Linked DNA regions of Homo sapiens: region 2 is linked to region 1. The links come from fine-mapping of genetic effects on gene expression. A gene starts in region 1. The other region holds a variant in brackets. All regions are shown on one strand. Distances are between the middles of the regions.

Region 1 (15,589 bases):
TAGAAGAACTTCCGAGCACACTTTGTGTTCAGTCTGCAAACACAGTTGTCTTTAGAAGTATAGAGTTGGCCAGGCGCGGGAGCTCACGCCTGTAATCCCAGCACTTTGGGAGGCCGAGGCAGGGGAATCATCTGAGGTTGGGAGTTCGAGATGTGGAATATGATGAGGTTTCTCTTCGAATAATCTGATCAATCTTTTATTCTCTAATTCATAGTACCCCCCCCTTTTGTTCTCCTTTCTCCTTTTTGCCTTTGTTAGATGCCCAGGCACGCCACGGTAGCAAGCGTTATCAGTACCAGCTCACATTCCTTTCCTTATTTGAAAAGAGGACTAACTTTCTAGCTCATTACAGACACCCCTTCCCCTTCCTCTCCACTTTCTCTTACATGCCCACCCTATCTAAAAAGAAAAAAAGGAAATGTTTAGCCAACCGGAATTAGATTGTACGACCCGACCCCGGCCAATGGGGAAAGGGTACAGGGGCAGGACTTGCGTCAGGAATAAAGGCCCTCGTGCCCCTTTGTTCAGGTGTGCTCTCATGGCAACTGGCCAAGGAGGTACCCCTCTGCGCAGAAGAAGTCCTATTCATACCCCAAAAGGTCAGCTTAGGGTTCCAAGGTACACTTAGGACATCTCTGCCTCATTTCCTTTGAGATTTTTATCTCCTTTCCCCTGCTTCCTGTTATCTGCAGAAGTTGGCGTATCAACAGGTCAAGTGGGGTTATATGCAGAACGAAATATATACGGTTTGCATAAACACAGTCCTTAATTCCCCCTGCAAACACTTTAAAGTCCCTGAGAGGAGTCTGGGAAAGCCTGGAGTTTGCTTTCTCTCCTGAGGGGGTAGCTTCATAATTAGACGCATTTTAGAGTAACAAAGGGCAAAGACAGATCTTGGCCCAATCTGGCCTCAATAAACTTCTGGTACTGGAGCTCAAGGGGTAAATCAAAGACATTATTAGCAGCCAGATGATCCTTCCACCCTACTTCTTCCCCACATCTCCTCGTCAATAAACAAACTTGCCTCTGGGCTGCAAAAACCTCACCACTAAAAGAGCGGAACTGCAGCAAGAGATGTTGCAGATTCTGCTTTACTTCCAGATGCCGTTATAAAGGCACTCGCCATGTTATCTCTTGGTTATTATTTTTAAAAGAATAAAAGCTGATAATTTGGGTAACTTTGAATAAGCAAAAATGTTTCTGCTATTTGTTTTTTCAGATTCATCCAAGGTTTAGAAAATGGATAAAGTGAGGTGTTACAAGGGCAAAGAAAAGTTTTTGACGATCATTTTTCTAGGTCTAATCTTGTTAATAAAGTCTATTAAAATAGTTCTAGAGCCTACTCCTACTCATTTTCCCCCAAATTCACTAAAATAATTTAAAATAATAATTACTGCATAGGCTCAACAAGGGCAGTGGTTGTGTCTGACTCGATCCTGTGCACTCCCAAAGTGCCTTCTATAGCAGGTACATCAGGAAATGTATGTCGAATTTAATTTTTGGTTAGACAGAAGCAATAAGAATGGATATCAATTTCTTTTCAAATTGGATTTCAAAGGAACAGAAAATACCAAACTTAACTAGACAACTAAATCCACCTAAGTTCTCTAAGTTACCCAAAGCCATATAAAATTAAAATAGGACACTTATCTTTGGGATCAGTCCCTGCCGAATTAGCAGAGGTTCATCTTCTTTCAGGCCATCTACGAGGAATCGCTGAATACATTTCAGCAACAGTGACACAGACTGAAATTCATTTTTATCTAGTTCCTAGGTATAAACCACACTAAGTTAAAACACTTATAAATAATTATACATTTGTATTTTGGTCACAAAGCAAACCAACTTGCCTTATTTATTGATCTGTCAAGACGGTATAATAGAAGACGATTATATTTTTGAGGAAAGTGGCTCTCTTTCTGTTGAAAGTATTCTTTTATTTTCTGAAATCCTTTATCATGGAATGCATCCGTAATAAGTGATTGAAGCTGGAAAGATGATAGTTTGCAAATTACTTTTTCCCCAAGAACATTTATTTTATAGTAATTTTCTAACTGATCTCATTATCAATAAGAATTCAGTGTGAAATAATATAGGGTAAATATAGAATGGAGATCTCTATCTTGAATAGTAAACAATCATTTCACAAATGATTGATGTTTCCGTTGGTTTAAGACAAGAGTTCCCAAAATGTGGTTCCTAGACCACCAACAGCGCTGGCATCACCTGGGGACTTCTTAGCACTCACACTCAGGGCAGAGCCTTTCACGTGATTCTCGTGCATGCTGAAGTCTGGGAACCACTGACCCAAGGAAAACAACACTTCAGTTTCAGATATCATTAGGTGAAGATCCTCAGCAATGTTGGGAATTCTAAAACACTAAAAATTTCAAGCCTATGATCACTCACTAAGTGACATAAATGATCATAATAGAAGGAAGAAAAATAATACTAATAATTATAGATAATAAGTATGCAAATTGACCATAATGAATGAAATTCATCTTTTCTGCCTGCACATTAGCTAAGACATGCTTCTAAGTACATATACTTGAAGGGCCGGGTGCAGTGGCGCACGCCTGTAATCCCAGCACTTTGGGAGGCCAAGGCAGGCGAATCACCTGAGGTCAGGAGTTCGAGACCAGCCTGACCAACATGGAGCAATCCCATCTCTACCAACAATACAAAATTAGCCAGACGTGGTGGCGCATGCCTGTAATACTTGGAAGGCTGAGGCAGGAGAATCGCTTGAACCTAGGACGGAGGTTGCGGTGAGTCGAGATCGCACCACTGCACTCCAGCCTGTGCAACAAGAGCAAAACTCTGTCTCAAAAAAAAAAAAAAGTATATATACTTGAATAACAGACATTTCCTTAAACATTTAAACTATAAAAGATTTTTTATCTTTAAAAAAATCTTACAGGTTAAATATACAATACTATTTTAATAAGGAAGCAATTTACTATATACAGCCCACAATTCCACTTATTCTTAGTACTGAATTAAAAGGGAAAACAGCATTTAAAATTATTCCATTTAAACAGAATGTTTTCTTTTTTAAGTTAACACATAGTGAGCTTTTTTGTGCCAAGTGTGTTAAGTGTTCTGCAGATGTTATTATTTAATCCTTACCACGGTCCTGAGAGGTTAGGTTCTTTATCTCAGGATACAAGTAGCAAGGATAGGAAAGGTTACAAACTTATGTGAGATTGCTCAGCTGAAATTCACTCCCTTTTACCTGCTTAAAACTCTGCCATTACCAGGCGCAGGGCTCACGCCTGTAATCCCAGCACTTTAGGAGGCCAAGGCAAGAGGATCGCTTAAGCCCAGAAGTTTGACATCAGCCTGGGCAATATATTGAGACCCAGTCTCTACAAAAAATGAAAAACTAGCCAGGTGTGGTGGTTCATGGCTGTAGTCACAGCTACTCAGAAGGCTGAGGCAGGAGGATCACTTGAGCCCAGGAGGTCAAGGCTGCAGTAAGCCATGATTGTACCACTGCACTCCAGCTGGGGTAACAGAGTGAGATCCCGTTAAAACAAAACAAAACTTTGCCATGGCTTCCTCTGCATTAAAAATAAACCCAAAATCCTTTGCTTTAGTCCGCAGAACGTGGCATGATCTGATCTCTGACAGTCTGACCTCCTTGCTAATGAGTCCTAGGATAAGTCAAGCTCTTCCTTGCCTCGGGGCCTTTGAACTGGCTGTTCTAGGCCTGGGCTACTTCACCCCACCACTTTCCACATGGCTGGTTCCACTCAGATCACAGCTTAAGCATCACTTTTTCAGGTAGATCTTCCAGGACCACCTTATCTTACGTAGACCAGGTGCCTCCTCAACATTCCCAATTATTCCCCATCTCATTACCCTGTTCTTTTTCTTCCTGCTTCTTTGGCTCTCTGCCAGTCTATAAGCTCCATAAAGGCAGACGTTGTTTCTAGTTTGTTCAGTATCATCTATCTGCATTTAGGGCACAAGATATCTGCACAGGGCACAAGATAGTTTAGACTAGGATATTGGTAAGATAGCTAATGGTAAATTGACTAGATATAGTAATAAATTGGACATGAGAGATTAGGGAAGGAGAAGTAAAGATTTCTCTGCTTCTGATTTGAGCAACTGGAGGAACAAGTTTGCTAATGACCCAGGGAACACAGAACTAGAAAGAATACATACACTCATATACACATACACACACACACACACACACACACACACACACACACACACACACACACACAGAGAGAGATTATAAAAGAAACTTGATCTTTACCCAGAAAGCATCATCCTGGGCCTTCCCAGTCCTGTCTTCCTTAATAGGCTGCAAAGCATCTTTGTTTTTCTGTGTGGAATAAAAACATGTTTTTAAACAATTTTTATTTCAAAGAAATGCATTTCAAGTTTTAAACACAAAGCAAAAAAAAAAAAAAAAAAAATTAAAGGTTTGTATTGTTTTCCTGAACAGAAATTTTTGTTTGCTCATATTATAGGTCTAAGTAAAATAGTACTTAGAAAAAAGAGAAAAACTTTATCCAACCTTCTTTAGCATGGTCTAAGACAAATACAGTACAAACTATCAGAAGAAGCAAAGCAAACATCATTTGAATAAATAATCACACAAAATAAACAAACTCTATAATGATGATTATAAAGTAGAAGTAAAAAGGCTTTGAACTAATAAACCATTTTCAGAATGAGAGCTTGTAAAATAAAGTTAAATAAAAGTGTCTTTAAGGCATCATAGTACCTGACTTCAAAATATACTACAAAGTTATAGGAACAAAACAGCATGGTACTGGCATAAAAACAGACACATATGTAGACCAATGGAACAGAATAGATAAACCCAAAATAAATCTACTTTTTTATAGCCAACTGATTTTTGACAAAGGTGTCAAGAACATTCATGGGGAAAAGACAGTCTCTTCAATAACTGGTGCTGGGAAAACTGGATATTTATATGTGGAAGAATGAAACCAGATCCCATGTCTCACCATATACAAAAATCAACTCAAAATAAACTAAAAGCTTACACTTAAGATCCCAAACTACTAGAATAAAATATAGGGGAAACACTTTAGGACATTGGTCTGGGCAAAGATTTTATGGAGAAAACCTCAAAATCACAGGCAATGAAAGCAAAAATAGACAAATGAAATTATACAGACCAAAAAGCTTCTTACAGAAAGGGAAATAATAGAGTGAAGAGACAACCAGCAGAATGGGAGAATATATTTGCAAACTATGCATCCAACAAGCCATTAATATCTAGAATATACAGGGAACTCAAACACCTCAACAGCAAAATAACCAATCCAATTAAAAATGGGTAAATAAGCTAAATAGACATCTCTCCAAAGAAGACATACAAATGACCAACAGGTATATGAAAAAATACTCAACATCACTAATCATTGGAAAATGCAAATCAAAACCAAAATGAGATATTATCTTACCCCAGTTAGAATGGCCATTATCAAGACAAAAAACAACAAATGCTGGCAAGGATATGGAAAAAGAGGAACTCTTGTACACTGTTGGTAGGAATGTAAATTAGTATAGACAATATGGAAAACAGTATGGAGGTTCCTCAAAAAACTATCATAAATCCAGCAATTCCACTCCTGGAGATATATCCAAAAGAAAAGAAATCAGTATGTCAAAGGCATATCTGCACTCCCATGTTTACTGCAGCGCTATTCATAATAGCCAAGATATGGAATCAACTTAAGTGTCCATCAGTGGATGAATGGATAAAGAAAATGTGGTATATTCACACAGTGGAATACTTTTCAGCCAGAAAAAAGAACAAAATCCTGTCATTCATGGTAACATGCATGAGCCTGAAGGACATTATGCTAAATGAAATAAGCGGGGCACAGACAGACACACTGCATGTTCTTGATCACATGTAGAGGCTAAAAAAGCTGATCTCGGCCGGGTGCGGTGGCTCATGCCTGTAATCCCAGCACTTTGGGTGGCCGAGGTGGGTGGATCACCTGAGGTCAGGAGTTGGAGACCAGCCTGGCCAACATGACAAAACCCTGTCTCTACTAAAAATAGAAAATTATCCGGGCAGGGTGGCGCATGCCTGTAATCCCAGCTACGGGGGAGGCTGAAGCAAGAGAATCGCTTGAACCCGGGACGCGGAGGTTGCAATGAGCTAAGGTTGCACTATTGCACTCCAGCTGGGGAAGCAAGAGTGAAACTCCATCTCAAAAAAAAAAAAAAAAAAAAAGGCTGATCTCATAGAAGTAGAGAGAATAGTGGTCACTAGAAAAGAGGAAGTGAGATAGGCAGAGGTTAGTTAATGAACACAAAATTACAGCTAGCTGGAAGGAGTAAGTTCTAGAGTAAGATAGTACTGCAAGGTGACTATAATGTACAACTTATTGTATATTTTCAAATAGCTATACGAGTAGATTTTGAACATTCCCAACACAAAGAAATAAATATTTGAGGTGATGGATATGCATAATTACCCTGATTTGATCATTACACACTGTATACACATATGGAAATATCACACTACACCCAATTAACATGTGCAATTACTATGTGTCAATTAATATATGTGTCAATTAAAAATAAATGATAAAGGCAAAGAAAAAGAACCATTGTGTTAGTGGATAATTGAGTAGAGGCAAAAGTGAGATAGGAGGAACAGCTAAAGCTACAATTAAAATTGGGTGTTAGGCCAGGCGCAGTGGCTCACGCCTGTAATCCCAGCACTTTGGGAGGCCAAGGCGGGCATATCATGAGGTCAGGAGTTCGAGACCAGCCTGTCCAATATGGTGAAACCCGTCTCTACTAAAAAATACAAAAATTAGCTGGGCGCAGTGGCACGTGACTGTAGACCCAGCTACTCGTGAGGCTGAGGAAGGAGAATCACTCGAACCCAGGAGGTGGAGGTTGCAGTGAGCCGAGATCCAGCCACTGCGCTCCAGCCTGGGTGACAGAGTGAGACTCCGTATCAAAAAAAAAAGGGTGTTAATTCATAGCATAAACTGACATCAAATAAACACTATGCTACGTATCTATAATTTCTAAGTTTTGTCAACAAATTCTGAATTAGTGGGAAATACTTCCCATCCCAAAGAAAATATTCCCGGGAGCCTTTATGTTAAGCTTCTTTACCTCTTTTCTCTATAGACACGGCCCTATCTCTCCTTCAGTTCAATTCGTATGCAGAGATGCTCTGCTTATTTTTATTTCTACCTCCTTTCAACCTTCTCTGGCCTTGGTGGTCAGTACTTTGCAAATTCCAAAGAAATGCTTCCTGTTTCTGGAATTTCTGGAGCCACTCTAGTACACAGAAAGGTATCCCCCTTCTGTGAAGATCATGTGGCAGCTTTTGTGGGTAGGAACCTGACAGGAAAATCAGAAAGTGGGATGGTTTAGGCAGAAAAGATCGTTAGATTCTCTGAGATTCAGTCTCCTCATTTAAAAAACATGATGATAGCCGGGCGCTGTGGCTCACGCCTGTAATCCCAGCACTTTGGGAGGCCGAAGCGGGCAGATCATGAGGTCAAGAGACAGAGACCATCCTGGCCAACATGGTGAAACCCCGTCTCTACTAGAAATACAAAAATTACCCTGGCGTGGTGGCGCGCGCCTGTAGTCTCAGCTACTCGGGAGGCTGAGGTAGGAGAATCGCTTGAACCCGGGAGGCAGAGGTTGCAGTGAGCCAAGATCACGCCACTGCACTCCAGCCTGGGCGACAGAATGAGACTCCGTCTCAAAAAAAAAAAAAAAAAAAAAAAAAAAAAAAAAAAAAAAAAAAAAAAAGATGGTAACACCTATATGGAAGGATTGGAGTGAGGACTGACTGACAGAATGTCTGTAATGTTCTTAGCATAGTGCCTGGGCACATAAAAATGGCTCAGTGAATGGCAGCTTTCAATGTAACAGGGATGGAGAGGGTGAGGAGGTTATGCTTAAGTGCTCTGAATTTAAGCGTAGCTTGATGTTAGAAAGGTTTCTGTCCCAAATCTGTTTCCCCATGGCTGGGAAGATGGCGCCAGATGACAGATGGATTTTATGGAGAACAAGAGTGAGTTCCTGGATCTAGGCAAGCAGTTACCCCTGGCTATCAGAATCACCTGGCGTCCTCACTAACAAACTAACAAACTACCGGCCCACCGTAGACCAATTACATCAGAATTTCTACCACCAGGAACCCAGGCAGAAGAATGTTAGAAACACGCCCCAGGTGGTTTTTGTTTGTTGTTTTTGGCGTCCCTGGGTGGGCTCAAACTTCATGTGTTTTTTTTTATTATTTATTGATAAGTAATAATTGTAGCTTTATCTTAGGGGCTGTCCTTTGTCGTTCGGTTAAATGAAGTCCCAGCACTTGGGGTTGCTTAACACTTCTGCACTTTCTACGCAGCAAGGTGGAAAGAGGGCTGGAAAACCGGCTAGGAAAATACGCAAAGCAACTAGAAAAGAACTATCTCATTGCTTTCCGAACACGAATTCTCCGGTTCCCCTTTCCCTGAGCGCTATTTAGCTAGGGATCCGAGGTTTCTATTCTGCCTGGTCTCCCCGCAGGCTGCCAATACACTCCGAGCAAACCCAAGGAGGTGGCGGGGGACTATGCCCAGCACCCGGTCTCTGAGCGAACACCTCAAGGCGGCAGAACCTGAGCCCCAGGGACCCCGCGCCCTCGCGCGCCCTAGCACTGTGGACAGAAGGTCCGGGCCCTTCGGGGGTCACTCACCGCTTGCATAACGAGGCTTCTTCGTTCCTGAAGCGACGCGCCGCTCAGCTTTGTTGCGCTCGGTCGGCCCTCTCCTGCTTCCCCGCCCAAGAGCCCCGCCCGCTGGGGGCGCTGCCGAAAGAGCCCTGGTGGCGGACCGCTCTTCGAGTCGAGTCTTCTTCCGCAACTGTAATTGACGAATCCGCCCCCTGAAGTTTACTAGAGCTCTGTGTTTTGAGACTCAAGAAGCGCGTGCAAGTAACTAGCGCACACAGGCCAAACCACCTGGGCGCACGCACTCACCCTTTAAGAGAAAGCCAGCACTCAAAGGATGTGAACTACGTCATTTAAACGTTCCTTATTTGCGAAATTCCAAACAGATAGGCGTTCGCTTTGTGGTAGCTGTTCCAAGTTTTTGCCCCGCCTTAAAAAGCCAGAGGGGCGGCCAGGCGCGGTGGCTCACGCCTGTAATCCCAGCACTTTGGGTGGCCGAGGCTGGTGGATCACTTGAGGTCAGGAGTTCAAGACCAGTCTGGTCAACATGGTGAAACCTTGTCTCTACTAAAAATACAAAAAATTAGCCGGGCGCGGTGCACGTGCCTGTAATCCTAGCTGTTGGGGAGGCTGAGGCAGGAGAATCACTTGAACCCGGGAGGCGGAGGTTGCAGTGAGCGGAGATCTCGCCACTGCACTCCAGCCTGGGGGACAGAGTGAGACTCCGTCTCAAAAAAAAAACAGCCAGAGGAGCAGTTTTTGGTCCATTGATGTGTGCAGACAGAAGCCGAACCCTTTCCTATGGTAACCAGACTTGTACCCGATATTATTAATACATTCCTGATTTCACACACACACAAAGTGTGTTTGGTGGTTGTTTTTTAAGTACCGTGGTGGGGAGGAAGGGGAATTTTTTTTTTTAATCAAAGCAAATAGTTTTGTTTTTGTTTTTGTTTTTTTGTTTCTTTGTTTGCCTATTTCCTTTAACCTGACAAGTATGCGTACCAATGGCTAGGCTGATTCGGATAGGTGGCCAGTTGTGTGAACACGGTGGCAAAATTAAATTGGACTAGAGTTTTCCACAAAAAACAAAAAAAAGACCCCTCCAATCCAAACATCCTTTGTGTAAAAATCAACTTGTATTATAACTAGACCTGTGAGTATTTCAAGTCATAATATGTACGGAAGATATTTGTCTACACCAAAGCAAAACATAACAAAACCAGAACCCCTGTTAGCCCAGGACTTGCACACATTTCTAGTCCGTTCAAAACAATGTTTATGTCAAAGCCTGTCATATCAATTTCCTGGAAAGTATAATGTAAACATTCTTACATTAATTTACCTATTTTAATCTAAACCAAGGAAATTCAAACGCAAGTTTTTTTCCTTTTCAATGAATGGACTTTTGTAATATTAAACTAGTAATCAAGACAGGAACAGCTGTGAGTATAAGCTATTGTGAGTCAATACAAATATAATACCAGGGCAAGAAAGAAACAATGAATAATAAGAAGCAATAAACAAAATACTACAGTTTAAATGAATTTTAAGAGAATATTTAAAAATTAGAGTTTTCATAATATTAGATAGAAAACTTAATCATCTATTATTTTCAGGCTTTGGGGGAAAACATGTCCTTCCAAAGTCTATGGTGCAATGCATTCAAATCTTTAAGAGAAATTAAAAATAACAGAATAGGCAAAATACCTTTTATCTGGTTTTTTTTTTACTTTGATTAGCTTCTTTTACTAACATGTTTTGTCTTAATATAATTTATGGCAACTTGAAATGCATACTCTAATTCTTCTCAAACTAAATATAGTAGAGGCTCTATGACATTTCTTTGGATACCAGAATCCCTTTAGAAATTAATTGATTTGCCTTTTACATAAAAAAGTTTTATTTATTTATGTTTTTGACGGGTCAGGTCTCTCTAGGAACATTCCAAAAGCACAGAGACAAGAACTATTCTAGCACTGCAATAAGACCAAAAATTAATTTCTATGCATTTTCAGAGGTAACTTTAAATCACCATTTTAAAGTTATTTTTAGAACATTTGAAAGGATAAGTTATCTTAGACTACAACATTTAATGAAATACTATAATTAAAATGGATAATCAATAAATTTTCATTCAATTTTGGAAGACAAAACAACACGAAAAGCAACTGAATCAACAGGAGTTTCGGGGACCTTTGGCAGACAGTTAATAAGATGAAAAATCTGTGAATGAAACTCGTGGGTGAAGAGTAGACAGATCTCTTCGTTCCCAGCTAGACCTCAGTGGCGACCATTTGAGAGTGATTTTAATCAGAAACCTTGACTGACAGGACCTTTTAGGAGGGGAGAACTTCGGGAGAAAGGAGGCTGGGAATGAACAAATCACTTTCTTCTGCTAGGACCCTTCGGCTTTGACTGGGAGGAGGACCCCAGCTAGAAGATAAAGGAGGAAAAAATCGCGAGGAACTGCTCGAAGTTGGCCTTTCTTCCCAACAGAGTTCGCTGGTCCGCTGCCACTGGCAGGCTTCTCTGACCGACTGGGATACTTTTTCTTTCTTCTTTCCTTTTCTTTTTTTTTTCTTTTTCTTTTCTTTCTCCTTCCTTGCTTCCTTCCTCTCTCTCTCTCTCTTTCTTTCTGTCTTTCTTTCCTTCCTTTTTTTTTTTTTTTTTTTTGAGACAGGGTCTCGTTCTGTCGCCCAGGCTCGGCGCTATCTCAGGTTACTGCAACCACTGCCTCCTGGATTCAAGCGATCCTCCCGCCTCAGCCTCCCAAGTAGCTGGGACTACAGGCACACGCCACCATGCCCGGCTTTTTTTTTTTTTTTTTTTTTCGAAGAGACAGGGTTTCGCCATGTTGCCCAGTCTGGTCTTGCACTCCTGGGCTCAAGCGATCCTCCCGTCTCGGCCTCCCAAAGTGCTGGGATTACAGGCATGAGCCACTGCGCCCAATCGCGGGATGGACTTTTCTAAGCAAGCCTCACTGTGCCTTTGGCGCGGGAAGTAAAAGGACAGGGAGCGTGGACCACCCTTAGCTTCCTGATGTGGTTTCGCTCTTCCTTTATCCGCCTTTTGCCAACCGAAGGCACTAATCCTGCAAGAGGCGTTGGCATGGGCGCCCTCCTGGCCGAGTCCCGGGCAGCACCCGTCCGTGCGCTCAGCACGGGCTTTGCGGTGCCAAGGCCTAGGGTGCGTCGCTTCCCGGGTCTGGAGGGTCATGGATTCGGTTCATCCTCCTCTATCAAGGGATCTGCCGTGAGGAGTTGGCTCCTCTTCTCTGGCTGGGGCTGGGAATGGAAGCGTGCAGCTGCAAAACAAGGACGCGGGCAATAAATTCCAGAAGCCCTTTCCCCTGGCCGCCAAGAATCCGGCCTTGGGGTAGTCAAAGAGTGACTTTAGTCACTTCAATCGGTTTTGTTTTGTTTTGTTTGTTTTTTGTTTTTTGTTTTTTTTATATATATATATACTGAGGGTCTCCATGTGCCGGAGTAGCCCTGGGCGAGTCGGCTGCTCAGATGATGAAGGTTTCGTCCCAGCCCCGGAGAACCCACATTGTCCTGCGCACCTCCGCACCACCGCGATTCTCTAGTCCTCCAAAGCCTCCCAAGACTGTAATGGAGTAAATTCAATTTCGTCGTGATATTTCCAAGACTATATCAGTGAAGTTTTTTTTTAAGAGTTGTGGGCCGGGCGCGGTGGCTCACGCCTTTAATCCCAGCACTTTGAGAGGCCGAGACAGGAGGATCACGAAGTCAAAAAATCGAGACCATCCTGGCCAACTTGGTAAAACCCTGTCTCTACTAACAATACAAAATTAGCTGGTCGCGATGGCGCGCCTGTAGTTCCAGCTACTCGGGAGGCTGAGGCAGGAGAATCGTTTGAACCTGGGAGGCGGAGGTTGCAGTGAGCCGAGATTGCGCCACTGCACTCCAGCCGGGAAGACAGAGTGAGACTCCGTCTCAAAAAAAAAAAAAAAAAAAAAGATTTGTGTTCGGGTGGGTGGCAACTGAGAGCTCGCCGAACCACAACCTCTTATTTAACAGATAAACAGATAAGGAAGCTGAGACCCAGAGGGAGCCAAAGCAGTGGAGAAAGCGAGTTCTTTGGGACTTTTCCCCTCTCCCCTTTCCCTCCTTCCCCAGGCTCCCACCTACCCCAGGCTCCCACCTACCCCGGGCTCATTTCCGCCCCCCACCTCCTCCAGGTTCACTTTGTAGGACTCCGTTCCTGCAGGGCCAGGTCCCTCCGAAGTCCCCGGGAGCGTGAAGGCGCCTGGGCTCGCGAGCATACGCGGAGGCTTGGCGCACCCTGGCACGTCCCAAACAGCAGAGCCAAGACTGCGAGACACTCACAATAGTTAGGGGAAGAGCCGGCAGTGGAGGCCCAAAATGGGCTGACCCCTAACTAGGAGGCGTGGGCGCGGTTATTCAGGCTAGGGCGCACGCGGACGGCAGAGGGGCCCACGCACGGTTCCCATGCTCTCCTGGAATTGAGTGTTGGCTCTCAGGGGACTTTGCTGGAAAGCCTCCATCTAAGCCCCTTTCCGAAATCAGGGAAGCTGGACGCGTTTAGAAAAAAGAAAAAAAATAGGCCGGTCGCGGTTGCTCACGCCTGTAATCCCAGCACTTTGGGAGGCCCAGGCGGGCAGATCGTCAGGAGTTCAAGACCAGCTTGGTCAGGGTTTCGCATGGCTAAAACCTGTCTCTACTAAAAATACAAAAATTAGCCAGGGTGGTGGCACGGACCTGTATTCCCAGCTACTCGGGAGGTTGAGGCAGGAGAATCGCTTGAACCTGGGAGGCAGAGGTTGCAGTTAGCTGAGATGGCGCCACTGCACTCTAGCCTGGGCAACAGAGTGAGACAAAAAAGAAGAAAAGAAAAGAAGAAAATAATAAGGTTTTAAACTTAAAGGATACATTCCTACTTACCCTCTCCACCCCCACCCTCTGGCTGCAGTTTCCATTTGCTTCCAGGGCTGAGTTTAACCTCCACCTCCGTTCCTGGGACTGTGGTGGAGGGGGCGACCGGCCCCTGGAGCGTGGGCGCTAGCGAGGTAGGCGAGACAGGGCGGAGCCCCCCGGAGGTATATCTTTATAAAGGAGGGGGCAGCTGCCAGAGGTCGATGCTGCCGTTCGGGTGGAGAACGTTCAGCACCGCGGCCAAGGACAAGGCCCCGCCCGGGTCCATAACCATTGTCCCCAGCTTCCAGATATCTAAACAGCCTCTCTCTCTTTCTCTCTCTCTGCACCTCCCCTTCACACACCCCACTTTCTTCTTTAAAGAGAAGAAAAAAAACCCACCTGGCGCACCTGTCCTTTTTTCTTCTATTTTTCAGAACCCTGGGCGGAAAGCGCGAGCGAGTTGGGCAGATGCCGGCGGCCGCGGTGCAGGAAGCGGTCGGCGTGTGCTCCTACGGGATGCAGCTCAGCTGGGACATCAACGATCCGCAGATGCCTCAGGTAAGTGAACCGGGTGTGTGCGGGCACGCGGGGCGCTGTCCATCCGAAGGAGGGAGAATGGCATTCGAGTTCTTGAAGAGTCTGCGGACGGACCATACACACACACACACACACACACACACACACACACACACACACACACACACACATACCCGCAAAATTTCTGGGTTTCTGAGGCCCTCTCAAGTGTAGAAAGAAAACTGGACTCTACAAAAGGCTGAGTTGGGTTTAGAAATGTGTCTTCTTGGCCGGGCGCTGTGGTTCATACCTGTAATCCCAGCACTTTGGGAGGCTGAGGCGGGTGGATCATCTGAGGTCGGGAGTTCAAGACCAGCCTGACCAACATGGAGAAACCCCGTCTCTACCAAAAATACAAAATCAGCCCAGCGTGGTGGCGCATGCCTAAAGTCGCAGCTACTCGGGAGGCTGAGGCAGGAGAATCGCTTGAACCCGAGAGGCAGAGGTTGCGGTGAGCCAAGATCACGCCATTGAACTCCAGCCTGGGCAACAAGAGCAAAACTCCATCTCAAAAAAAGAAGAAGAAGAAGAAGAAGAAATGTGTCTTCTCCCAGCAATTTCCTTGTGCTTGCCTGAAATCACAAGCAAAGCAGCAGGAAATGTTGGTCAGGCTCCACATTCCCAGTCTTGGGGAGAGCGGGACGCCTGTCCTTTCACTTCCCTTTAACCAAGGTAGAAATTAGGTGCCTCTCTCCTTATTCATTTACTTTAAATCCATGAGGAAGCTAAGGAGAAAATCTAAGCAGATGTAAATACCACTGCTTCTCATGCAGCAAAACTGAGGTACAACTGTAAAGTGAATCTAATGACCTAAATTTAAAACAAGTAGCCCGACTTGAGCAATTTGCTCAGACCTCCCTAACTGCTCAGAGGAAGGAGGCCCCATAGTCATGCCAACAAGGCCACCTGTACCCAAAACTTACTTCTTCTCTAATGACAAGCAAATCATCATTCTTTTAGGGTGAATTTGTTGTATTTTGCTTTATTTCAATAAAGCAAAAATGGTTTGGAGCCAAGTCCAAAGAATGACTGGGGTGGATGAAGTGGTGAATGAAGTGGGTGGTTTGAAGCCAGTTCCAGAGAATGACCAATTATCATTAGTCACACTGGTTAGGGCCAAAATTGAGTGATGTTGAAGTCCTGGCTGTAGGGGGTGGGGGGTGTAGAATGAGAGTTGCTTCCCTGCCATTTGCAGATGTGGGCTTCCAGCAATGTTGTGGCACAGGGATAAAAGAGATGGGTCATTTTGTCCGCAACTAAAATGTGTCTGATAGGTGTTCAGATGAATAACAATTCATTGCAACATTGTGTCGCCTCTCATAGAGGTCAGCACTTTTTTGGATCCATATATTTGTAGTAGGTTAGGTGTGTTTTACTCCTTTGTTTTTGTTTGTTTGTTGGGGTTTTTTGTTGTTGTTTG
Region 2 (15,589 bases), 59 kb after region 1:
TGCTTATGTGCTATCAGGGAGCAGGGACATGGAATAATGATTTTTTAAAAGCTTTACCTTGATGTCTATGTCTCTACATTAGACAATTGTATGTTCAGGGGATAGAAGGAACAGTTGCAATGATCAGCGTCTCACCCTGGGCAGCTGTTGATTTTGTAATTAATGTAGTTCAAAAGAAGCCTTTCCAAAGTTTTTTCTTAGGGAGCGCAGTATGTAAAGTTGTTTTACTTAAAGGTTAGGTAGGGCTTAAATGGGACAGATCCTCACAGAACCACTAATCTGACCTTTTAAAAATCTATGTCACGTCCGTAATCCTCAACACTCCACCCCTCAAACAGAAAGGAGCTGGGAAATGGTCGTGTTCCTTGCTTATTCTTCCCTCAATATAAGTACACCCTATCCTATAGCCATCATCCGTTGAAAGACAATTGGTGTTGCCGGTGTTTATTCAGAAGTTGATTGGTTAGGCTTGGAATGAAGTTGCCAAAATAGCCACTCGCAAAGAGACTGTGCACGCAGGCTTGGGTCGAAAGTCATCAGTGACTGAATGCTCTATTGTGCTGATAGTGCTGGTGCAGCTTCAGGTCACCCTCCCACCCCAGGGCGGTGGTGATGGGGGTGGCTGATGGCCTTAATAGTGGAAGAGAGAGGTGTAATTAATTCTTAATTTTTAGATTGTTGGGCCAATGAAGGTGATTTTTTTGTCACTCTTTGTGTTTCCACTTCCTGAATAACACTCGCTACCATCATTACCATGCAACCAGAGGCAGCTCCCTCTTCCATTCCCTTCTCAAGTCATATGTCCTTTTTCAGAATTGTCTGCATTACTTTTCTACCTTTTAGACCCTCAAATGCTTGTCCTTGGTTAGGTGTTAACATGAAAATAATTTGGTTAAAAGAAAAGATGATGCTATCATACCATTATGTTTCTGAATTAAATAATTTTCATGGCTGGGCGCAGTGGCTCACGCCTATAAACCCCAGCACTTTGGGAGGCCGAGGCAGGTGGATCACATGAGGTCAGGAGTTCAAGACCAGCCTGGCCAACGTGGTAAAACCCTGTCTCTACTAAAAATACAGAAATTAGCCGGGCATGGTGGCACGCGCCTGTAATCCCAGCTACTCAGGAGGCTGAGGCAGGAGAGTCCCTTGAACCTGGGAGGCGGAGGTTGCAGTGAGCAGAGATAACGCCACCACACTCCAGCCTGGGCATCCGAGCTGTAGGAGATTGGTCAGGGTGGTGGGAAAAATCGTAGAAAGATGCAAACCTTCTTGGAAGGCCAGGGGTTTGCAAAGCTTCAAAAGAAAATTTGGCTGAAGGCAGCTGAATTCTCTTAAGAGCTTAGGTTAGATAACAAGGGGATGTAAAGAAACTAATCTAGATAAGTTAGTTTACTTAGGCCTCAGAACCTGGCCTTTAATCATCCAGACGCAGGACTGCGTGGGGCGGGGGAGCGGTGCGACCATGTTAATTACCCACAAGTGTGTTAACTCAAAGCCTTTGTCATTAAATCTGTGCTGAATAAATGCCCACAGCGCCAGCTGAGCAGGGCCACGGTTTACAGCACCCTCCTGGGGTCTGTGTGCTGCCCGGTCCCCTAGCCCGCTCTTTCACTGGATACCTGTGTCTGAGTGCATTCTTTGATCTGTCATTCAGCCAGGGTCTGCGGGTCGGACCTGGCACAGAGTGAGACTCTGTCTCAAACAATAATAATAATAATAATAATAATTTTCATGAGAGGAGCACCACCTAGATTCTTTCTCCCTTAACCATTCAAGTTCTAAGGTCTCACTCTTTCCCTTCACTGTTTCTGTTATTTTTCACTGGTCTGAATGACCCAGATGTAGCATTAGGGTTTAGTCAGGATATGGAGTAGTCCCACTTCACTTTCCAGGTAGTCAGCAATATCTTAGTGTTTGAGTGAAGAGCTGCATTAGGAATCTTAAGGTGGAGGTTGGGGTAGGTGGCTTGAGTTGTGGAGCTTAGTCTGTGTGGTTTTGGAGCAAAGAGGATGATTTCTTTAGCCTCATTAGGGATAGTAAGAGCTGGCACCAGTTCATAAGAATGGCTTGTTTAGAAGTTGGAGACGACCCTGAAAAACCAACAACATCAAGCCAAATGCAACTATTGGATTGACTCCATCGTTGATTCTCTAGTTGATCCTAGACAGGTCATTTAATCCTTCCATGTTTTTATTTTATGATCTTACTGTCATAAGGAACATGATGGCCTTTTGTGCAAATATATTCTCTTTATGCTTACTTAATCAGAAAGAATCAGTAAACCTAGAGATCACATATTTCCTAAAAGAGATAGATATATGTCACCTTAAATAGGCTAGCTAGAAAAGAGTGTACAGCAATTGAATATGCTGGTGATAAATTGCAAAATACTGATTTAATAAAATCCTAAATGAGAAGAAATATATTTTAGTCCATGTTTTGTTTAACGTAGTACAAAACAAAACAACCCAAAAGATTTTTCCAAATTATATTTGCTTATACAGATAAAGGCAAAATGAAGAAAAGCAAATTCATGTTTTGATTAGGAACCGTGCAGAGAGAGAGACTGCCTTTCTCTATATTAACACCTTAATATTTGGAATCAGTGTCTATGAATAAGGTGACAATGACTTACAAAACTATTCTTTTTCAGGCAAATGGGGAACCATTTGCTGGTACTTATGATTATTAGCTCGGGCTTAATCTGACAAAAAGGAAGAAACCCCTAAATAGAGATGGAATCTGCTGTCATGTTCTCTTTTTCAAGATCCTGGCCATGGAGTTAGCTAGCCTAAATTATTTTATATGTGCCTTTGAAGGGATTGTTACCTACATGAAGTAAGATAAATGTTAAATACGTACTCCCTATTATTATTATTATTATTATTATTATTATTATTTTGAGACAGAGTCTCGCACTGTTGCCCAGGTGGGAGTGCAGTGGTGCAATCTTGGCTCACTGCAACCTCCGCCTCCCAGGTTCAAGTGATTCTCCTACCTCAGCCTCCTTAGTAACTAGGGCTACAGGCCTGCGCCACCACACCCAGCTAATTTCTGTATTTTTAGTAGAGATGAAGTTTCACCACGTTGGTCAGGCTGGTCTCAAACACCTGACCTCAGGTGATCCACCCGTCTTGGCCTCCCAAAGCGTTGGGATTACAGGGATGAGCCAGGGCGCCCAGCCCACACTCCGTATTATTAAAAGCCCCACAGGATTCTTCTCAAGTTTTCTGTGAACAGATACGTTCCTGTAAATAGGAAACAACATAACTTTACTGTGCTGCTCTGCACGTTTATGTCTGCTCATGTTTATGTTTCTTTTCCCGGAAAGGCTGTTTTGGGAAATCTTAAGTATTTTGACAACTATAACGTGCCCTTGTTGGTCTTAAATTCCTGCAAATAATAGAGGAGCAATTTCTATGATTTAAATGAAAGTGCTCCAGTGAGAGAAAAATATTCTTTGAATGAAGAACTAAGTCATAAAAGGTACTTTAAAACAAACTACATACACACCTCGGAGATACTGTGGGTTTAGCTCCAGACCACGGCAATAAAGTGAATATTGCAATAAAGCAAGTCACACATGTTTTTGGGTTTAAAGTACATATGCAAATTATGTTTACATTATACTGTAGTCTATTTAGTATACAATAGCATTTTGTCTAGAAAAAATAACATACATACCTTAATTTAAAAATATCTTATTGTGGCCGGGAGCAGTAGCTCACACCTGTAATCCCAACACATCGGGAGGTGGAGGCAGGTGGATCACTTGAGGTCAGGAGTTTGAGACCAGCCTGTCCAACGTGGTGAAACCCTGTTTCTACTAAAATTACAAAAAATAGCTGGGTGTAGTAGCTTGCGCCTATAGTCCCAGCTACATGGGAGGCTGTCAAAAAAAAAAATCTTATTGCTAAAAAATGCTGATTATCTGAGCCTTCAGTGAGTCATAGTCTTTTTGCTGGTGGAGGGCTTTGCCTCTGTGTTGATGGCTGCTGACCGATCAGGGTGGTGGCTGCTGAAGGTTGAGATGGCTGTAACCATTTCTCAAAATGAGACAACAATGGTATTTGCTACATTGACAGACTTTTCATAAAAGATTTCTCTGTAATATGTGAGACTGTTTGATAGCATTTTACTTACAGTAGAACTTCTTTCAAAATTGAAGTCAGTCTTCTCACATCCTGCCACTGCTTTGTCAACTCAGTTTATGTAATATTCTAAATCCTTTGTTCTTGACTGGGCACTGGTTCATGCCTGTAATCCCGCCGAGGCGGGCGGATCGCTGAGGCCAGGAGTTCGAGACCAGCTTGGCCAACATGGTGAAACCCCATCTCTACTAAAAATACAAAAATTAGCCAGGTGTGGTGGTGCGCACCTGTAATCCCAGCTACTGGGGGTCGGGGTGGGCACCTGTAATCCCAGCTACTGGGGGAGTGATGGTGACAGGGGTGAGGACTCAGGGACAAAAATCACTTGAACCTGGGAGGCGGAGGTTACAGTGAGCCAAGATTGTGCCACTGCACTCCAACCAGAGTCTCACTCTGTCTCAAAAAAAGAAAAAAATTCTTTTTTGTCTTTTCAGCAGTGTTAATAGCATCTCTACCAGAAGTAGATTCCATCTCAATAAAACAGTTTCTTTGTTCATCCATAAGAAACACTTCCTCATTCATTCAAGTTTGATTATGAGGTTACAACATTTCAGTCACATCTTCAGGCTCTACTTCCCTTTTTATTTATTAAAAAATTTTTTTTTCTTTAGAGACAGAGTCTTACTCTGTCACCCAGGATGGAGTTTAGTGGTGTGATCATAGCTCACTGTAACCTTGAACTCCTGGGCTCAAGCAATCCTCGTGCCTCAGCCTCCCAAGTAGCTGGGACTACAAGCGTGCCATCAAGTCCAGCTAGTTTTTTAGTTTTTGTAAAGAAGGGCATGATATGGTGCCCAGGCTGGTCTTGAACTCCTGGCCTCTACAATCCTCCTGCCTTGGCCTCTCAAATCACTGGGATTACAGGCATCAGCCACCACGCCCGGCTATGTTTCTTATTTCTTTGTATGAACCTAGTGTGACACTAAATCCTAATTAGTATTTACATTTTTCTTAGTTTGATGTAAAATAAAGTAGCATGTTATTTAAATAGAATATGAAATTTTAAAATAATGCTATTCCTTTCATATGAAACAAAAGTTTGCTTTATACTTACCTTACCCAATTGGGGTACTTATATTCCACAGAAAATTTACAAGTAGTACAGTTTTAAACAATATGCCAAATTAAATATGATACAAAAATTGATTCAAAGAATGGATATCATATAGACATCAATTTTCCAAGGTCTGATTTGGAATAATGTAGATTATATTTAGTAAAAAAGGAATCATACAAGCCATTATGCCATTATTGAACATAAATAGCACAGTACCATGTAAATGAGGCATTTACCAAGTGAGTATTACCAGTGAGTTATATGTGAACTTCATTTTACATAGACAAATGACTTACTGACAAATATTTAACACAATAGTATTTATATTATTTATAATTTTCCCTTTGCTCTAAGTTGCCAGTACAATTTTTGAAGAGACTTGTTAATGAAAATTCATGATATCCTTGTTTTCTTTCTTTAGGGTGTTTATAAGAATGGAAGTGTTGTTTCCTTGCCCGATTCCTTCATGCTATATCTCATGAACCTCTGTAATCTTGGGGGAGAGACTATATTTAATGATGACAAACCTGTCACCAGTGTAGCAACAACAGTGTGAGGACAAAAGCAAATAAAAATTAAGAAGCGTTCAAATTTATATTCAACAAGGAAGTCATTTCAATCAACAACTTCTGCTGCATTATTTTTCCAAGATGAACCGATACACAACCATGAGACAGTTGGGGGACGGCACGTATGGGAGTGTGCTTATGGGCAAGAGTAATGAATCCGGGGAGCTGGTGGCCATCAAAAGGTACTGTGTGTGACACTGCCAACTTCACCTTTGAAAACTCTGCTCTTTATTTTCCTGTCCTCGCTTAAGAATATATACCAGCACAGGCCAGCGCGGTGGCTCATGCCTGTAATCCCAGCACTTTGGGAGGCCGAGGCGGGCGGATCATGAGGTTAGGAGTTTGAGACCAGCCTGGCCAACATGGTGAAACCCTGTCTCTACTAAAAATACAAAACTTAGCCAGGCATGGTGGCACGCGCCTGTAATCCCAGCTACTCAGGAGGCCGAGGCAGGAGAATTGCTTGAACCCAGGAGGTGGAAGTTGCAGTGAGCTGAGATCGCGCCACCGCACTCCAGCCTGGGTGATACAGTGAGACTCCGTCTAAAAATATATATATATACGTGCACACGCACACACACACACACACACACACACACACACACGTGCACACAGGCTGTGTGCGGTGGCTCATGCCTGCAATCCCAGCACTTTGGGTTGAGGTCAGGAGTTTGAGACCAGCTTGGCCAACATGGTGAAACCCTGTCTCTACTAAAAATACAAAAATTAGCCAGGCATGGTGGTGCACACATGTAATCCCAGCTACTCAGGAGGCTGAGGCACGAGAATCGCTTCAACCTGGGAGGCAGAGGTTGCAGTGAGCTGAGATTGCACCACTGCACTCCAGCCTGGGTGACAGAAGGAGACTCCATCTCAAAAAAAAAAAGAATATATACGAGCACAGAAAGAGGTCTAGTTTAGATCAAATAGCATCTGGCTCATGTGGAATGTCATTCTTGGAAAAGAACATTGCCAAAGAGGAATTCTGCTGTTTTTCTTCTATATTACTTTAACTGTCTGGCTTGTCCAGCTACACTGATAAACCAAAAAATATGAGTGCCTCCTTTTTTATATGTATAATACATTTGGACCAAAACTACAGGTGATCTTTGGAATGTTCTTCCAAATTTATTTGTTGGTTTTCGTTTTTGTTTGTGTTTTTTGAGATGGGGGTCTCACTCTGTTGCCCAGGCTGGCGTGCAGTGGTGTGATCATGGCTCACTGCAGTCCTGACTTCCCAGGCTCAAGCAAGCTACCCACCTTGGCCTCCCAAAGTGCTGGAATTACAGGTGTGAGCCACCATTCCTGACCTGTTTTTCACATTTAAAGTTGAGTGCAGAGTAGGGCTTATTATTTCTTTAAAACAAGGTCTCAAAATCAGATGGTATTCATAATGTCAAATTGAGTTCTGAATGATATATGTTATATTCCTGAACTTATGAAATAGAATTGTTGTTAATTTGTTTGTTTTTAATCCACTGTGTTTATCTATTGCTGCATAACAAAATACCTGCAAAGCTTAGTGATTTAAAATAAGAAGAAACATTTATTAATTCACATAGTTTCTGTGGGTCAGGAATTTAGAAGTAGCTTAGCTGGGTAGTTCTGGCTTGGGTTCTCTGATGGCAGTCAGATAATTGGCC[G/A]AAGTTTCAGTCATCCGAAGGCTTGACTGGGACTGCAGGATCTACTTCCAAGGTGGCTCACTCTTGGTTTGCTAGGGCTGCTGTAACAAAGTATCACAGACTGGTTGGCTTAAACAACAGAGATTTATTTCCTCACAGTTCTGGAGGCAAGAAGTGCAACATCAAGGTATCTGCTGGTTGTTTCTTCTGAGGCCTCTCTCCTTGGCTTGTAGACAGCCATATCCTCTCTAGGTCTTTATATGATCTTCTCGTTGTGCATGTCTGTGTCCACATTTCCCCCCTCTTTTTTTTCAAGACAGGGTTCCATTCTGTCGCCCAGGCTGAGGTACGGTGGTACAAACATAGCTCACTATAGCCTCAGCCTCCTGGGCTTGAACCATCCTCCTGCCTCAGCCTCCAGAGTAGTTGGGACTGTAGGCGTGTACCACAACATGTGGCTAATTTTTAAAAAATTTTTTTGGAGTGATGGGGTCTTGCCATGTTGCCCAGGCTCCTCTTATAAGGACACCAGTCATATCAGATTTGGGCCTACCTGAAAGACCTCACTTAAACTTAATTACCTTTTTAAAGACCCTATCTTCAGATACTGTCACACCGTGAAAGTCTGGGGGCTAGGACTTCAATATAGGAGTTTTGGGGGACACAGTTGAACCCATCACACTCACTCACAGGGTTGGCATATTTGTACTGGCTGTTGGCAAGAGGCACCTCAATTCCCTTTTACAGAGGCTCCTTCCTTGGGCCTTTCCAGAGGGTTGTTTGAATAGCCTCGGGACATGGCAGTTGACTTCCACCAGAACCAGTCCCGTACTCATGGGATACGCATCTCCACATTACCACATCAACCAAATTATGACAAACTAAAATTTAAATACTTTAGCAAATGTTTTAAAATATTATGATCTAAACCATTACATGTACAAGGAAATAACTTCATAAAATATTTTTAAATAGTCATTATCATCAGATAAGTAAATATATAATATACAATAATGGAAATGAAAAATAAATTGAATAGGCTTAATAAAATTCAGTGCTCATTTGTGATTTGATGAACTAAAAAAAACAAACATTGATTTCTTAAAAAACTTATGATAAAGCCTCTTGGCTGAATGCAGTGGCTCACACCTATAATCCCAGCACTTTGGGAGGGCAAGGCAGGAGGATCGCTTGATCCCAGGAGTTTGAGACCAGCTTGGCAACATGGTGAAACCCCACCTCTACAGAAAATACAAAAATTAATTGGGCATCGTGGTGCTCACCTATAGTCCCAGCCACTCGGGAGGCTGAGGTGGGAGGATTGCTTGAGCCCAGGAGGTCGAGGCTGCAGTGAGCCAAGATAGTGCCACCACTACTGTACTTCAGCTTAGGTGACCTAGTGAGACCCTATCTAAAAACAAAAACAAAAGTAAAACAAAACAAAAACTTAGCAAATAGGAATAAAAAGAAACTTCCCTAACCTACATAATTCATATTAATGTGAATTAGTACGAAAACCTATATAATTCATATTAATGTGAAATATCAGAAGTAATATCAGTACAAATTGTTTGAAAACCCCAAATGCCTGCTAGCAGTCCTGCTGATTAGGATTGCATTGGGGATACTTACTACTGCTATAAGACAGAAACCTAAGAAATGAGTGTTATTAGACAAAATGAGCTGAAATAGCCCACATTTGTAGATTAAATGATTATGTAAATTCACACAAAGAAATACTTTATTATATACAAATACATCCATATACAAAAATATTTTTAAAGGCCTGGAAAGATACACCCAAAATCCATGATAGCCATGGGTTCTGGGGAGGAGGGTAGGCGAATCAGAAGGGGTGTTGGGTCTTGGGTACAGTCCCACAGATGGTTATTACTGTCTGGTTTTATATGACAAAATGTCCATCATTTTTTTCTGAGTGGCAAAAATATGGTATTTGTTTTATCCTTCAAAAATATGGTATTTGTTTTGTTTTGTTTTGAGATGGATTCTTGCTCTGTTGCCAGGCTGGAGTGCAGTGGCGCGATCTCAGCTCACCACAACCTCTGCCTCCTGGGTTCAAGCGATTCTTCTGCTTCAGCCTCCCGAGTAGCTGGGATTACAGGCATGTACCACCACGCCTGGCTAATTTTGCATTTTTAGTAGAGACGGGGTTTCTCCATGTTGGTCAGGCTGGTCTCGAACTCCCGACCTCAGGTGATCCACCAGTCTCAGCCTCCCAAAGTGCTGGGATTACAGGCGTGAGCCACCGTGCCCGGCCTACTGTACTCTTTTAATTGGGAAAGCAAAAGCTTTCTCACATCCCATCCAGAATGCATAGGGTTTCTTCTCGTTGATCAGAAGTGTACCACATGGCACCCCTAGCTGCAGGGAGGCTGGGAAACTGATTACTTAGCTGAGCATTTTATATTCCTGTGTAAAAGCTGACTCTGTGAATGAAGAGGTAGAGAAGGAGGGCTTTCAGCTACTCAGCTTACCGTGTGTCTGCCACATGCAGTATCTACTGTGTGTTGGGCAGTGCTCCACCTTAGGCAAAGATGGAGCAAAAATGAATGAGAAGAGGAGTCCCATGGAAGACTTGAAGAAAATTGAAAAATTCATTTAGCACAAAATTGTTAAACTCCTGTTGTATTTCATGATCGGGACAAAATAGATGTCTTACAATATACTCAGGAAGACCAACAGATTCAAGAAGTTACAACATCAAGTATGCTAAGTCCTATGATGGGGGAATATTGGGTCCTGTGGGAGCCTAGATAAGCCACACTGGAGAAGTATCACAAAAGTCTTCCCAAGTCATTGAGACCTCAAGAATGAGAGAAAATTATTTTTTTAAAAGGGGGGGTGGGGGGAAATGCTCCAGGGAGTAAGAAATAGTACGTATGAAGCCCTGGAGGCGAGAGAGAGTGTGTGAGGGCCTAACTGGGGCTGAGTAACTGAAAGAAGTGTAGGTGGCTGGAGCGTGGATTACGAGTGGGGCAGAGGAGGGACGTGAGGCTAGCAGGTGAAGTCGTGAAGCCAGATGAAGGAGCGTGTATATCTTGAAGACTAGAAGGTCATGAAGGATTTTCAGCAGAATTGTTGATGTGATCAAATTTTTGGAACTGGCTGATTAGCAGAAGAGTGGAGACGATTGAAGAGGTCAAGACTGGACACCAGGTGGCCAGTTAGAAGGTCAATACAGTCATCTTGGTTAGAGGTTAGAAGGTCAGTGCAGTCATGTTGGTTAGAAGTGGTGGTGGCCTGACAGGAAAATAGCTTTGGGGATGGATGTAAGTGGATACAGTCAAGGGACATGTAGGAAGCAGGCTCTATAGAAACTGGTGACTGGGCATGAGGGTGGAGGGAGGAGTAAAAAATGGGGAAGAGTCCAGGCTAACTCCTGGGATTCTGGCTTAAATGTATAGTGGTGGTGCCATGTACCATGTACCATGTCAAGGAGGGGAAAATCACAGGCTTAGGGGTAAAGCTGAATTCAGTCTGGGGCATGATGACTTTTAGTCAATTGAATATTTGCATTTAAATCTCAAAACAGAGGTGCAGGCTAATGATTTGGAATGGTTAGTCTACAGATGGCAATTGAAACTCTTTAGAGGGAGAAGAAAAGAGGTCCTCATTTAGGGCACCGAGAAACCATGGCATATAAAGGATGGGCCCTGGAATAGGATCTTACAAAAAAGTCTGAGGAGCCACCAGAGAAATAGGGTAGAAACCAGGAGAATGTAGAAAATATCTGAAACCAAGGGAAAGATCTAAAGAAGCAGAAGCACGTATCAAGAAGTCTGGAGTGTGATGATTCCAGAGCTCTTTCAATGGCTCAACATTGTACCCAAGAAATTCAGATGTTTTCTATGATTTTCATGCTGAGCGGTTAGCATTGTTTTTGTCCTCAAATGTGTCACCTAATGACCACCTTATGGCTACTTCACCTCCAGGCATTACGTCCATGTTCAAGGAGGGAAGAGGGCAGAATAATACGAGCAAACTCTTCTCATCTTTTATCAGCTAGTGATAATTCTTCCCCAGAAGTCCTCAAGGACATCCCCTTACATCTTACTGGCTAGTATTGGGTCACGTGGTCTCTCTTCCAAAGGAGGCTGAGAGAGTGAGTATTTACTCTTCCAGTCTCTATATTAGGAGGCAGAAGGAAAGGGGCTGGAAATGGCCTTGTGATATTTCAACAATATCATCGGCTGTGGTGTTCCTTGGGTTTGGGGAATATGACATAACTGGCGGCCACGGTGAGCACTGTTCCAGTGGAATAGTGGAAGCCAGACTGCAGTGGGACAAGGAGTAGCGGGAAGTACGGCAGTGGAGGCATGGAGCTTTGGAGAGTTGTGAAGGATGAGTTACTGAGTTGTTAAGAAAGCCACAAAGGGGTTGCCCAGTGTCAGGAAGAGTCCGCCTGAAATTACATGGACGAATGTGAAAGTGGAGCCGCTGGGAGCATTTTCATGACTTTGCTTTCCACCTCCACCCATCTGTATGGAGAGGGGAGACTGGAGGATGACAAGGCAGGAGAGGGGAGACTGGAGGATGACAAGGCAGGAGCAGTGGAACGGTGGGAGAAGGGGATGTTCAGAACGTGTGTGTGATCTTGAGAGTGTAGTGGGTGAAAGGCTGATGGTGGGGCCAAGCTGGATGAGGAGGCAAACCACGCCACACAGGTGGTTGTAGGAATAGCCACAAGTTGAACAAGAAAGAGGTTGTATAAAGAAGTTTTGAGGGTAGCGACGGTGAAAAGGATAGGAGGTTATGATCAAGAGTCTGAAGTTAGGTTGTTAGGTCTTGGACAGTAGGACCATTCCTCATAACAAGGAGTTTATGGTAACTGTGGTAAGACAGAGGTGAACATCTCTTAGGAGTTAAGCAACTGTGAAGCCAGGCTACTGGCAGGGTTATCAGTTTAACCTACATTGAATATTCACTATAGCCGTTACTCCTCAAGTCTGAATGAGACAGTGATTGTTATCTACAAGAGTCATACAAGCAGGCTTTGCCATCTCTTTAAAGCCCGATATAGAGGGATAAACTTTACCTGAAAATTACAGATATTAGAGTCTTCATTCTCCCTTCTCATTTTTTTTTTTTGTTTGTTACCAAAACAATTCACATCCCATAATATCCTATCAATCTTTTGCTTGGTGATATAAAATTTTAGGCATTTCCAATTTAGGCTATAAATATTCTAGGTATAACTTGTTAGATACCGCTTTAAGATCCATCGATACTTTTCCCCTAAAATTAAAAATAAATTCCAGGCCGGGTGTGGTGGCTGATGCCTGTAATCCCAGCACTTTGGGAGGCCAAGTGGGGTGGATCACCTGAGGTCAGGAGTTTGAGACCAGCCTGGCCAACAAGGTGAAATCCCATCTCTACTAAAAATACAAAAATTAGCCGGGTGTGGTCGTGTGTGCCTGTAATCCCAGCAACTCAGGAGGCTGAAGCAGGAGAATCACTTGAACCCAGGAGGCGGAGGTTGCAGTGAGCTGAGATCACACCACTGCATTCCAGCCCAGGCAACAGAGTGAGACTCTGTCTCTAAATAAATAAATAAATACGTTCTACATTGAATACATTTTGTGGAGTAGCTGAAGAAGAGCTGCCTATTCTTAATTTTCAGAGTGGGCAGTAAACATGTCCCCTTAAAGGGAAATTGATTACCTGGAAGGTGTTTTCATTCTAAAAACCTTTTAAACAAAAGAGCCGGTGTCGGGGGCTGGGAGTGGGGGTTTCTATTGGAATTAGAGAAGTTCAGCTATGGAATTTAACAAGTTCCATGTGTTATTAGATATGGAATTTAACAAGTTCCATATGGAATTTAACAAGTAGGAAGTAAACAAGTTCAGAATTACGTTGAGAAGCAGAGAAGAAGCTGAATGCTGGCCCTCTGCTTTTGGGAGTTGGCCTGAAGAAGCAAGGGCATGGCATGGCAGTTGGTAGATGATGGACAGGGTGGTGTAATCTGCTAATGTAAACATGGAGAAGAAAGTCTGTGCTTAATTCAGCAGGCAAACCTTTTGAGCGGTCTAGAAATGCAGTCAAAACTGGCTAGGATGTGTTGGAGGGGGAATGGTTAGAAGTTGGGAGAACACTACACTGAACAAAATAAGAGGTTTCTTTGAATGTTTCCTTTGGGGAGTTTTAATTTAGATCACTGAAATCTTGTCTTTTCTGCAATTTTTTTTAAAAAAAGTTATTTACTTTATGATAGAGGATGGTAGAAAGATTCCCTCACTTAATTAAGTTAATAAATATCTATTAAGCCCTCTGCCCTTTAAGAACTTGAGAGGTAGTTCTATTTCTGAAGTTGATTTCCTGTGTCAGATGGGAACACCATGGTACCATCTCTTATTTGTTCATTGCCCTGGCATGGAGTGGATATTGACGAATTAATAAATGACAAAAGATGGCAAGGAACCTAAAAGGAAATGCCTTTTCTTAGCTATTCTAAGCAATTGGTTTACCTTTGGGATAATCATTTTGTAAGGAAACTTCTGTATTTGTTGTAAATAGATACATGCATTGCCTTAGGGAAGGGAAGTACTGCTGAGAAGTGGTAATTGCTGGAAAGAAGAAGAGATGAAGAGAGTACATCTGGATGGATGAAGAGAATACAGATTTTTTTTTTTTTTGAGACGGAGTTTTGCTCTTGTTGCTCAGGCTGGAGTGCAATGGCGCGATCTCGGCTCACTGCAACTTCTGCCTCCCAGGTTCAAGCGATTCTCCTGCCTCCGTCTCCCAAGTAGCTGGGATTATAGGCATGCGCCACCATGCCCAGCTCATTTTTGTATTTTTAGTAGAGACGGGGTTTCTCCATGTTGGTTAGACTGGTCTTGAACTCCTGGCCGCAGGTGATCCACCTGCCTCAGCTTCTGAAAGTGCTGCGATTACAGGTGTGAGCCACCGCACCCGGCCAGCTTTTTTTTTTTTTTTTTTTTTTGAGACGGAGTCTCGCTCTGTTGCCCAGGCTGGAGTGCAGTGGTGCGATCTCAGCTCACTGCAAGCTCTGCCTCCCGAGTTCACGCCATTCTCCTGCCTCAGCCTCCCAAGTAGCTGGGACTACAGGCGCCCGCCACCACGCCTGGCTAATTTTTTGTATTTTCAGTAGAGATGGGGTTTCACCCTGTTACCCAGGAGGGTCTCCATCTCCTGACCTCGTGATCCGCCCGCCTTGGCCTCCCAAAGTGCTGGGATTACAGGTGTGAGCCACCGTGCCCGGCCTCAGATTTTTTTTTTTTTAAGAGACAAAGTCTCCCTGTGTTGCCCAGGCTGGAGTGCAGTGGCTATTCACAGGCTCGGTTATAGCACACTACAGCCTCTAACTTTTGAGCTCAAGCAGTCCGCCTGCCTCAGCCTCCAGAGTAGCTGGGACTACAGGCGCACACCAGCATGCCAGTGAGAGTGCAGATTTTACAGGTAGAATGAAAGTTTCAGTTATCACTGAAGCTTGAAAAGTAACTTGAACGTATTTTTATTTGGCTTCTAAAAGATTGGATACTTTTAAAATTCTAGACCTGGAGTGGTGGCTCATGCCTGTAATCCCAGCACTTTGGGAGGCTGAGGTGGGCGGATTACCTGAGGTCAGGAATTCGAGACCAGCCTGGCCAACATGGCAAAACCGCATCTGTACTAAAAATACAAAAATTAGTCGAGCTTGGTGGCACACACCTGTCATCCCAGCTACTTGGGAGGCTGAGGTAGGAGAATCGCTTGAACCTGGGAGACAGAGGTAACAGTGAGCCGAGATCACGCCATTGCAGTCCAGCCTGGGTGACAGAGCGAGGCTCCATCTCAAAAATGAAATAAAATTCTGAAATTACGTTTCAAGAATCATAGCAGGCTGGGTGTGGTGGCTCATGCCTGTAATCCCAGCACTTTGAGAGGCCGAGGTGGGCAGATTGCTTGAGCCCAGGAGTTTGAGACTAGCATGAGCAACATGGTGAAACCCCATCTCTACAAAAAATACAAGAAGTTGCTGGGCGTGGTGGCATGTACCTATAGTCCCAGCTACCCAGGAGGCAGAGGTGGGAGGATCACCTGAGCCCAGGAGGTCAAGGCTACAGTGAGCCATGATCAGGCCACTGCACTCCAGTCTGGGTGACAGAATGAGACCATGTCTCAAAAAAAATAAAATAAATAAAAAGAATCATAGCAGATTATATGTGC

Evidence for each region. PIP is the estimated chance that this variant, and not a neighbour inherited with it, causes the effect.
Region 2: its variant is fine-mapped to the expression of SYCP2L in cerebellum (GTEx, PIP above 0.99). The same link has a PIP of 0.9 or more in cerebellar hemisphere, nucleus accumbens and prefrontal cortex.

The regions. Positions count from the first base shown.
Region 1 is chr6:10,880,266-10,895,854 of GRCh38, reverse strand. SYCP2L (synaptonemal complex protein 2 like) reads right to left here and starts at 8,803. Exons shown (of 30, transcript NM_001040274.3): 1 at 8,720-8,803; 2 at 4,274-4,342; 3 at 1,851-1,988; 4 at 1,651-1,770. The coding sequence starts at 8,728. It overlaps GCM2 (glial cells missing transcription factor 2), which reads left to right and starts at 13,814. Exons shown (of 5, transcript NM_004752.4): 1 at 13,814-14,151. The coding sequence starts at 14,062. RefSeq lists an enhancer at 8,868-9,636 and a silencer at 13,625-13,919.
Region 2 is chr6:10,820,921-10,836,509 of GRCh38, reverse strand. It overlaps MAK (male germ cell associated kinase), which reads left to right. Exons shown (of 15, transcript NM_001242957.3): 2 at 5,633-5,962. The coding sequence starts at 5,862. Among named protein-coding and RNA genes, the nearest start is that of MAK, 9.8 kb to the left of the region's middle. The variant G/A (reference allele first, on the strand shown) is at 7,424.